Regions from separate parts of the Homo sapiens genome. Here region 1 is linked to region 2. The links come from fine-mapping of genetic effects on gene expression. A gene starts in region 2. The other region holds a variant in brackets. All regions are shown on one strand. Distances are between the middles of the regions.

The links. PIP is the estimated chance that this variant, and not a neighbour inherited with it, causes the effect. A credible set is the group of variants that fine-mapping cannot tell apart.
Region 1: its variant is the best candidate, but not a certain one, in a credible set for the expression of THBS2-AS1 in whole blood (TOPMed, PIP 0.64).

The regions. Positions count from the first base shown.
Region 1 is chr6:169,184,540-169,189,913 of GRCh38, reverse strand. No RefSeq gene overlaps it. Among named protein-coding and RNA genes, the nearest start is that of LINC02544, 4.5 kb to the right of the region's middle. RefSeq lists enhancers at 1,075-1,574, 1,575-2,076, 4,113-4,612. The variant A/G (reference allele first, on the strand shown) is at 3,122.
Region 2 is chr6:169,210,021-169,215,394 of GRCh38, reverse strand. THBS2-AS1 (THBS2 antisense RNA 1) reads right to left here and starts at 2,183. Exons shown (of 3, transcript NR_134621.1): 1 at 1,817-2,183; 2 at 908-1,221. RefSeq lists a silencer at 2,095-2,444.

The sequences.
Region 1 (5,374 bases), 25 kb after region 2:
AGTAGGGACGAATTCAGGGCTCAGGATTTGGTACTTTCCCAGAAACTCTTTTACAGAGAAGCATTCCAACATTTGGCAAACAACGACAACATTCGACAACCACAAGGGAAGGCCACACAGGAGCGTGGTGCTCCGGCTTGGGGACGTAACGGGTCCCACAGAGCTGCTTTTATTAACGATAAGGAATTTCACACCCCTGTGTTTGCCCATGAGAAGCAGAATATTGTCTGATGTGCTGAGTATCACACACATATTTTGATCCTCTTAACTAATTATTTGAATAATGAAGCCCAGAAAATGAAAGGAGTAAATAAATTCCACCTTGCAAAAAATACAATTTTGCAGTTTACAAAGTGTTCCAGTGAAGCTATGGGATCCCAAATCAACTCCTGCACCCCTGCGCTCCCTAGCCCAGGAGCTGATGCTCTGCCCAGCACACCCCACCCGCGGCTCAGCTGCCATTGTGAGTGTCTCTTTGCCCTCGGTGATGAGTGCAGCACCTGCCTTTCTGTGTAAGCTACGCTGAAGTGCCCAGTAGGATTTCTGTGAGAGGGAAATATGCAAAACCCCATTGATGTCTATTCCCAGTGATCGAGAAGGAAAAAGGCTCACTGTTCCAGGAGGCTGCACAAGTTTTTCTGTCACCTTAATTGATGTGTGTCTAGTGTAACATTTCCAACAGACAAAAAATATGGGAAACGTTGCACTTTCTTCGTTCTAGCCCCACAATGTATACCATGTGCTACTGTGAAACAGAACTTCTGTGAAAGGACTCCTGGCTGGGCGTGGTAGCTCATGTCTATAATCCCAGCACTTTGGGAGGCTGAGGCAGGTGGGTCACCTGAGGTTAGGAGTTCAAGACCAGCCTGACCAATATAGTGAAACCCGGTCTCTACTAAAAATACAAAAATCAGCCAGGTGTGGTGGTGCATGCCTGTTATCCCAGCTACTTAGGAGGCTGAGACAGGAGAATTATTTGAACCTGGGAGGTGGAGGTTGCAGTGAGCTGAGATGGCACCACTGCACTCCAGCCTGGGTGACACAATGAGACTCCATCTCCAAAAAAAAAAAAACCTCTGTGAAAGGACTCCTAAGCAGGTGCTCAAGGAAAACAAGCTCGCCCCTTACTTTGCAGCTGCCGAGTGAGTCAGCGACTCACACCATTGTCTGAGCCTCTGGTTTAAAAGCTGAGGTTTACCGTGAATTATGACGTCACCAGAGTCCATGTGGTTTTGATATTTATAAGTAAAATTCTCAAAATGTGAGCTTCCTTGGTGTCATGCTTTGCTGTCGCTGGGGACCCTTGTGGGTAGCACTGCAGGGAACAGCTGCAAACCCACTGCTCACCTGTCTCCAGACTGAGCTGTCAGTCTTCCTCTGGCATTCTCCCTCCCTCCCCTCCAATCCAGCCAGTCTCCAAGGCCTCCTGGGACACTGGGGCTCAGTTTCCTTCCCTCCAACCCCATGGCCACTCTGCAGCTTGGGGCAGAGGCAGTGGGCTTCCCGCTCCCAGGCCTACTTCCCTCCATTCTCTACCAGCAGCTGGAGGGATCTTCTGAAAACAAAGCTCTGAGTGTCTTCTCACCTCCTCAAAACCCTTCAAAACCTCATGTGACTCAGAGAGCACCTACAGCGGTCCCCAACACCCCGGCAGCACCTCCTCACTCACTGTTGCTGGAGGCAGCCTCACCAGCAGGCCTCGTTCATCTCCGTGAGTGTCCAGAGACGCCCCCTCGCCCCATGCTGTCTGCTCTGGATGGTGGAGGCTCTTCCCTCTCCAGAGCTCTCCTCTGTGTGGAGGTCGGGCAGCTGTGGGAGGCACCAGCCACGTGCTGTCCATGGCTGGTGGCCTTCTACTGGGGACAGGGATGGGGGACAGGGGGATGGGGGACAGTGACAGGGGGGACGGGGAGCGGGGGGACAGGGTGACAGCCTGCCCGCAGCTTTGCGGTCATTTGCAGGGTTTACATTTGCTCGACTCTTTTGACTTTTTAAATCTTTTTTAAGTGCATGGCTGTGTTGGGTTCACAATTATTTGAATAAACAATCGTTCAATTAGTTTAGTTTTATCCAGTTGTTGCCTATCAGTGGATGTGTGATCTAACACAAGCTTATACAAGGAGAATTTGCTCTTCGTTACTGTGTTAACAGTATTTCTTCTACTTATAAATAGATTAATCCAGTAAAATGTAGAGAGGCGAGAGAGAGCTGAAACTAAGGTCTGCTGAGTGTTTAACTTGAACACGCTCTTATTTGGTGGCTACTTTTAAACAACTCCAGAAATTTAATAAATTACTCTGGATAAAAGGTTGCTTCCTGTTTCTAAGGAGCTGTCCCTCTTTAGATCAACATTTAAACTTACATTAAGATGTATACTTCTTGGGGTAATTTAAAGTTGAGCTGAGATTCTCTTCTGGATAAGCAGGATCACCAGGTCGGGATGGCTTTTCTCTGCTCTTGGTTCTGCTCACGTTTTGCCACATTGGAGAGTTTGTTCTTGCAACCGTCCATAAGTAACTTGTCTGCTTTCAGAGGTTTTAGCTAAATTTCTCTTCATAAAATCATTCTAGCAAATTTATTATGCAAATGGTATAAGGGATTAGCTTTGCTTTTTTTTGTACTTTAAATTATTCTGTCATCTTTCTCTTACAGTACGTGTCCCGTAGCACCTAAATAAATTTCTATCTCTTATACCTTTTGTTGTGAATACATGTTTTGGTCTAAATACATATAATTGCTAAGTTTTGTTGATTTGGGACTAGTTTGTGTTCAGAGTGGTGGAGTCAATGTGAAGTCTCCCGGGTGTGAGCAGGTGCCGTGCAGAGGCTGCACGGGGCTTCCCCGGACCTGCTCTCCAGGATGCCCACCTCGTCAGGCTCACCCCCACCACACCTGAGCTTCTGTCCGTGGAGGTGGTTGAGGCGGCTGGTGGGTGGCGTGTGTGTGGTCATGGCCCTGTTCAGTTACGCTGTCTGTTCTTAACTTCTGCCACATCCTCCTTTGGCCTTTAATTTCGTAAAGGTTGTTGTGGGTGGAATGTTCTGTGGTCCATTTCTTTCCACCTCAGAGCTACCCCTGGACCTGATGTTTTTGTGTAAATGCTGGTGCTCACTCTGCGGCC[A/G]TCGTAGGGTTTGCTGAAGATGGTGGCGTGTGGCCGGGTCAGCAGCAGCCGGTGGGGGCTTCAGGGTTTGTTGATGGCACAGTGGGCTCCTCCGAGGAAGCGAAGCGCTGCCCTCAGTCCCGGCTGCTGCTGGCGGCACTCGGGCCGGTGACTGCTCATTTTATTGAGCTCATGGCAAGGCGTAGGGGGTGGCTGACCGCAGCCTGGGTCTTAGCTGTCATGCTCAGAACACACTAAAGTCACTTTCACAGTTTGTTTTTATTTTAGCGGTAGCTTTTCATGGCTTAGTTGGGGTTTAACTTTATTTGTGTATAAACTTAAGCACGCTTTACACTGGGCTTTATTAATTTGGGTTAAGCCTATGGCCATGGTGGCCGGCACGAAATTTACCAACCCTAAGGAAAATGACTGTAGCTTCTCACACTTCTGCTTTACCACCACATCTCTACCTCCGCTGTTTCCCGCAGGGCCGTGGCGGAGTGGGGAGCTAGGAGCTGCTCCTGAGTGAGCCTACGGCCCGTTGCTTTGGGTCTCCTGCGAACCTAGAGGCCTCCGTGCAGGAACACAGGTACCTGGATGCGTGGCCTCGCAAAGAACTCATGAGGAGGCCAAGACCAGGCTGTGTGCTGATGGTGTTGCATGAACTCAGGCTTGGTCAGTGCCTGGCTTCAGTGATGTCAACGTGTACTCAGAGGAGAAATGGCTGAGCTTCGGTTCTATGTGAGTATCCTGGGCTTTCTTAGTAATCATAGTAAGAAACAAAACAAGTTTTAGTCCAAAAAGCCTAATTTTGAGTGAATTTTTCTGGCAAAGCAGGCTGTGGCCTGTAGGGGCCCAGCTCTGACGTCACAGCAGGTGACACAGGTCAGAAGCAGCCTCCTTGGAATGGATTCAGCGTGCTGGGGCCGCCTCCCTGCCACCTCGCTTGGCCGGGCATCACCACGGCACACAGTGAGGGACCTTCTGATCCCGGTGGCAAGGGCCGTGTCTCCAGCCTGCCCCTGTGGCCAGCCCTGTGCACCTCTTTCTTTTTTCTTTTTTCTTTTTTTTTTTTGAGATGGAGTCTCGTTCTGTCGCTCAGGCTGGAGTGCTGTGGTGCGATCTGGGCTCACTGCAAACTCCGCCTCCCGGGTTCACGCCATTCTCCTGCCTCAGCCTCCCTAGTAGCTGGGACTACAGGCTTCTGCCACCACGCCCGGCTAATTTTTTGTATTTTTAGTAGAGACGGGGTTTCACCATGTTAGCCAGGATGGTCTCGATCTCCTGACCTCGTGACCGCCTCGGCCTCCCAAAGTGCCGGGATTACAGGCATGAGCCACGGCGTCCGGCCCTGTGCACCTCTTTCATTTCAGGTTTCCAGCGCATTGAAACAGTCTCTGACACCACTCTGGAGAGAGCAGAAGCCACGCTGGAGTGACCGGCCCTCTCGGACCACAGGGGTGGACATAGCGGTGGCTGTGGCAGCCTCAGTTGGCCACCTCCCCATTCACCCCACGTGCTCCCCATGGCCTCTCTCTGGCACTATTAACAGCACTGACCCCACGAGTGGGGAGGGTCCCTGCGAGTACAGAAGCCCCTCCCCACCGTTCAGCATGGACAGCCAGTCCGGTACAGCCCCATTGGTAAGAGGCTTGGGAATAAAGGGTGATACCGGGGGGTGGGGGGCTGAGGGTCTCTGACCTCTGTGGGGACGCAGTGGGTGCCACAGTGATTGACACGTCCAGCTGGGCCTGCCGGCTGTGGGACACCCTAAGGCATCATGAGGTTGCTAGTTTTGGCAACAGAGAGGAGAATTTGTGGAAATGGGGTGCCGTAGAAGAAAAGTAGACTGGGCTTGGTCCTCACAAAGGAATTGTCGACTGTTCCTGGTAGAATTTTAACCCTTATATTTGGGAAAGGGAGCAAGGAAAGATAAAATCTCCTAACTGGTCAGGCGACTGCCTGGATGGACTGCTAGGGTTGGTTTTTCGGTCTCAAATGTCCCTGAAGGAGTTGGAGGGTTGGTGTTGACAGAGCCCCTGCTGCTGGCATGAGCTGGGTATCCTGATCCTTGGTTAGAAGCTGTTTCTGTTGAATGATATCCCAGAACTATTAATTCTGGAAGCTTGAAAACCACTTATGTAATGTCTTCAGAGCAATATTAAGGGCTGGTCTCCACAGGAGAAATCTGGGCCACAGTTACACAGGATCCCACCCTGTTTCCAGGGAGCATTTGCCTCTTAGCATTTGTTAAGAAGAAGTTACAGTTTATAG
Region 2 (5,374 bases):
CTCATTCTTCTGAGTCAGGTGGAGGGAAGTAGCGGACCCCAGAGGAAGGGCCCATTTCCAACCACAGCACTGCCTAAAAATGGGCCGATCGGGCTCACCAGTTGGAGGAGGCAATGGCAGCAGCACAGAACGCTGGGGTTTCTTTAGCAGCTCCAGCTGCTCTTGTTGGGATTTCTGAATATTATGCAGGCAGACACAGAGAAGAAAAACAGGGAGAGAGGGAGAGAGGGCATCCAGAGAGAAAGGGGAAGAGAGGGAGGGAGAGAGGGAGAGAGGGCATCCAGAGAGAAAGGGGAAGAGAGGGAGGGAGAGAGGGAGAGAGGGCATCCAGAGAGAAAGGGGAAGAGAGGGAGGGATGGGGGAGAGAGAAAGAGACAAAGAGACAGAGGGAAAGAGGGGGAGTTGGGGGAGGGAGGAAAAGAGAGCAAGATGAATAAAAACAAGTATACTTGGCTGAAACACGCTGGAGTGAGTCAGACAGTGAAGCAATAAGATATAGGAAAGGCCGTCTGAGGCAACGGGCTGTGAACTGAAGGCCCTGGCTTTGAGTTGTGAAATGAGTGAGTTTTAGTTCATCAATATGGAGGAAAAAGCTAGACCTACATGTGTAAAAAGAAAAGTTTAGAAACAAAATAATGATGGCAGTGATAGTGGCTGGTCTATGGACAGCTACTGGAGGAAGCTCAATGTACATTTTACTCATGAAACAAAAAATACATATAATATGTTGAATAAGGATGCTTAGAAGTCAGGCATTAAAATGAGATACATTTCTCCTGCATTCAGGTTTTGCTGTCATTTATCGAAAAGTTGAGGTTTCCTGACAATCATGTTCCCTGTCGATGGCCTTAGCCACATCAGAATGGTTGTCTCCCAGGATTAATGTGTGGTGCCTTTGTGAGCTCACCTGGGAGGAAGGTGTCCCTGGACCTCGATGACTCCGTGCGAGCACCTGCCCTGTGGCCCTCCATCTCCCTTCTGCGAATCGCTGCCAGCACACCACGGGAGCTCCGCACCTTCCACCGTGGACCGGGAGGGCCGTCGTTCTAGACGCTGATGCTGCTGCTCACAGGGAAAGGTTCGGCCCAGGCCCACGCTCTGAGAGTTGTCTGTACAAGGCTCAACCAACTCGCCCTCAGGGCAGGCACAGGCCTTGGTCGTGTGGAACGAGTCGGTGGGTGAAATAACACATCTTCACTCCCAAGTATCCAAGCGTGGGATCTGTGATTGCCGGGAGGAGAGAAGCCTTCATACCGTGACCAACTCACTGGCTGCTGCGTGTCCCAGCTATAGGCTACATGGGGGCAGAGGGCTCCTTCCGTCATTCCTGGAGGACCAAAATCTTAGGCCAGCTTTGCTCAGTCTGCGTTTCACAAAGTGATGCTTTTGACCATGGAGCAAGTGGTGCCTAGGCCTTGAGGAACGCAGGTGTGGGGTGATCCAGGAGCTGCCACTCCAGCTCCACGGCCACAGCCCTGTGGGCTGCCAATGCCCAAATGGGAGGGCCCTGCTGAGGGCTATCACCCACACGAGGCCCTTAGCCCAGGGCAGGTACCTGCACTGATGCTTCCCACCCTCTTAGTAAAGTCCTTCTGGAGCCACCAGCCTGGGGGCCCAGGGGAGGGGCTGAAGCAAGCTGGGACACTCCTGCTTCGCCCGGGTGTCAGCCCTGTGCCCAGGGGAGTGAGCTGCGGGCCCAGAGCAGCTTGCGGCCCACGCAGCCGGCGTTAGCCTTGGGGACCACGTGGGCATTTGTGAGAGAGGTCCGGGCCCGTGCCCCCCACCCCGTGCAGTCCCACAGGGGCCCCTGACTCACCCTTCCCCAGCCCTTGCTCAGCGGTCCGGCCCCTCTGGCTCCCCTGAGTCTGCGCTTGGCCCCTTGCGGGTGGGGTGAGCGCGGAGCCTCGGCTGTCCCTGCCTCGTGGCCCACCCAGGGCGCCCGCCGCCCCTGCAGCAGTAGCAGGACCTACTGCCAGCTTCTCAGTTCCTGTCTCGGCCTTTTTCAGGCCGTTGAAGACTTTTGCCACTTTTCTGACTTTTTTTTTTTTTTTTTTTTTACCACATAAGGGCTTTTTCAACCCCAAAGCACATCAAATGCAGGATGGGAAGTGATATTCGACTTTCCGGCCTCCAGCGCACACCCCTGACGCGCGCGGACTGCAGGGCTTGGGTCGGGGCGTCCCTGGGAAGCTCAGCCGGTTCAGCCCCGGCGAGCCCCGCCCGCGCGCGTCCCCGAGAGCCGGAGGCCCCGCCGAGCGCATGCCCAGCCCTCCCTGCGCGCCTGCGCCCTCCCTGCGCCCTCTCCTGGGCCCTGACTGTGCTTGAATGACAGCTTCACTGCAGGGTAACCCGGAACCTTCAAAAGGCCGATTCTGCAAACAAAATGGTGTAGAAAGAGGAAGAAAGCATTAGTGCAACAAAACTCGATTGCGCTTCGTTTTATGTACGATTTATTTACTTTTAAAATATTTTTTCTGTTTTTAGATTTATTTTTCTACTGAAAAATTGTTTAGTTATCTTGAGGTGGGACAGAATTCTTCATACGACTTTTCCCATTTAAAAATGTAATTATTTTTAAATATGGCTTTAGGAATAAATTACAGTTGTTAAAATGGAGATACATATTATTTATATTTATGTATTGATTATTGAATGGTATATACGCAAGCAACATACACGTGACTATACATATGCATCATGAATACACAAACCTCCCTTGTCTCAGGCCATACTTATTCTGGATTTTAAAGAAGTGGAAAAGTTGGCAAAGTGTCAGAGAACAAGATCAACACATGGAAATCAGTTGTGCGTCTGTATACCAGACAGAAACAATTTAAAACGGAAGTTAAAAGTACAATACCATTTGCAATAACATACAAAACAATAAAATACCTCGTAATAAATGTAACTTGGGAGGCAGAAGACTTGTACTATGAAAACAGAAAAACAATGCCAAAATAAATTAAAACCTATATAAATGGAAAGACACCCTCGTGTATAGTTTGGAAGATTTAATTCTAATTCATTATAATATCTGTAGTATTCTTGGGTTATATGTGATATTTTGATATCTGTTTAAAATGTGTAATGATAAAGTTAGGGTAATTGGGATACCCATGACCTCATACATTTTTATTCTCTGTATTGAGAACATTACAATTCTTCTAGCTATTTTGATATGTACAATAAACTATTAAGCATAATTTTCCTACTATACTGCATGTGATAGCTCATTCCTTCTGACTGTATTTTTGTACTCCTTAACCAGCTCCCCTTCATCTTCCTCTCCACCATTCCACCCCAGCATCTGGCATCCGCCATCCTGCTCTCAACATCCACAAGACCCACTGTTTTAGCTCCCACATATGAATGAGAACATGCAATATTTGTCTTTCTGTGTCATGCTTATTTTACATAACAGAATGATCTTCAGATCTATCCATCCTGCTGCAAATGACAGGATTTAATTCCTTTTTATGGCTGACTAGTATTCCATTGTGTGCATATACAATATTTTCTTTGTCCTTTCGCCTATTGATGAACACTTAGGTTGATTCGATGTCTTGGCTATTGTGAGTAGTGTTGTAATAAACATGAGAGGGCCGATGTCTCTTTGATATACTGATTTCCTTTCTGTCAGATGCATACCCAGCAGTAAGATTGCTGGACTATACCAAACGTAGTTCTAGTTTAGTTTTTTGAGGAACCCCCATACTGTTTTCCCTAGTGGGTGTACTACTTTACATCCCTACCAACAGTGTATGAGTGTTCCTTTTTTTCCACCTTCTCATCAGCATTTGCTATTTTTTGTCTTTGTGATAATTCTAAATGGGGTCAGATAATATCTTCTTGTGGTTTTGAATTGCATTTCTATAATGACTAGTGATGTTGAGCCTTTTTTCATGTACGTGTTGGCCATTTCTTTTGAGAAATGTCTATTAGGTCTTTTGCCCAGTTTTTAATTGGGTTGTTTGAGTTTCTTATATATTCTGATTACTAATCCCTTGTTGGATGGGTAGTTTGCAAATATTTTCTCCCATTCTGTGGGTTGTCTCTTCACTTCGTTGATTTTTTCCTTTGCTGTGTAGAAGCTTTCTGGCTTGATATAATACTATTTTTCTATTTTTGTTATAGTTGTCTGTAATGTTGAGGTCTTACCAAAAAATCTTTACCCAGATCAATGTCCTGGAATGTTTCTCCGTATTATTTTTTAGTAGTAGTTCTATCGTTTTGGGTCTTGCATTGAAGTCTTTAATCCATTTTGATTTGATGTATGTATATGGTAAAAGAGGGGGGTCTCGATTCATTTTTTTCTGCATGTCTAACTTTCCTGGCAGTATTTATCAAAGAGACTGTCCATTCCCCAATGTATGTTCTTGATGTCTTTGCCAAAAATGAGTTGGCTGTAAGTACGTGGATTTATTTCTGAATTCATCGTTTTATTCCATTGGTCCACATGTCTGTTTTAGTGTTGGTACTGTGCTGTTCTGGTTACTATACATTTGTAGCAAAATTTGAAATCAGGCAGTGTGATGTCTTCAGCTTTGTTCTTTTTTCTCAGGATGGCTTTAGCTATTTGGAGTCTTTTGTGGTTTCCTACGCTTGTAGGAATGCTTTTTTCTGTTTCTGTGAATAACATCATTGGTATTTTGCTAGAGATTACATTGAATCTATTGATCACTTTGGGTGATTTACAGTATTCATTCTTCTAATCCATGAGCATGGGATATCTTTCCATTTGTGTCTGTGTACCCTCTTCTTCTCTTTCATCAGTGTTTTATAGTTTTCCTTGTAGAGATCTTTTACTTCCTTGGTTAAACATATTCCTAGGTATGTTTTTTGTACCTACTGTAAATGAGATTGCTTTCTTGATTTCCTTTTTAGATTGATCTCTGTTAATGTATATAAATGCTACTGATTTTTATATGATCATTTTTTATTCTGAAACTTTATTAATTTATTGGTTCTGATTTGTGTGTGTGTGTGTGTGTGTGTGTGTGTGTGTGTGTGTAGTCTTTAGGTTTTTCTAACTATAAGATTGTGTCATCTGCAAACAAGGATAATGTGATGTCTTCCTTTTCCAATGTGGATACCCTTACTTTCTTTCTCTTGTCTAATTGCTCTGGCCAGGACTTTGAGTATTATATTGAATACAAGTGGTGAAAACAGACATCCTTGCCTTGTTCCAATCTTAGTGAAAAGCCTTTCCATTTTTCCTTGTTTAGTATGATATTAAATGTGGGTGTATCATATATGGACTTCCTTGTGTTGAAGTACATTCCTTCTATACCTTATTTATTGAGAGTTTTTTAAAAATCAGAATGGATGTTGAATTTTATTAAATACCTTTCAACATCTATTGAAATGATCATAT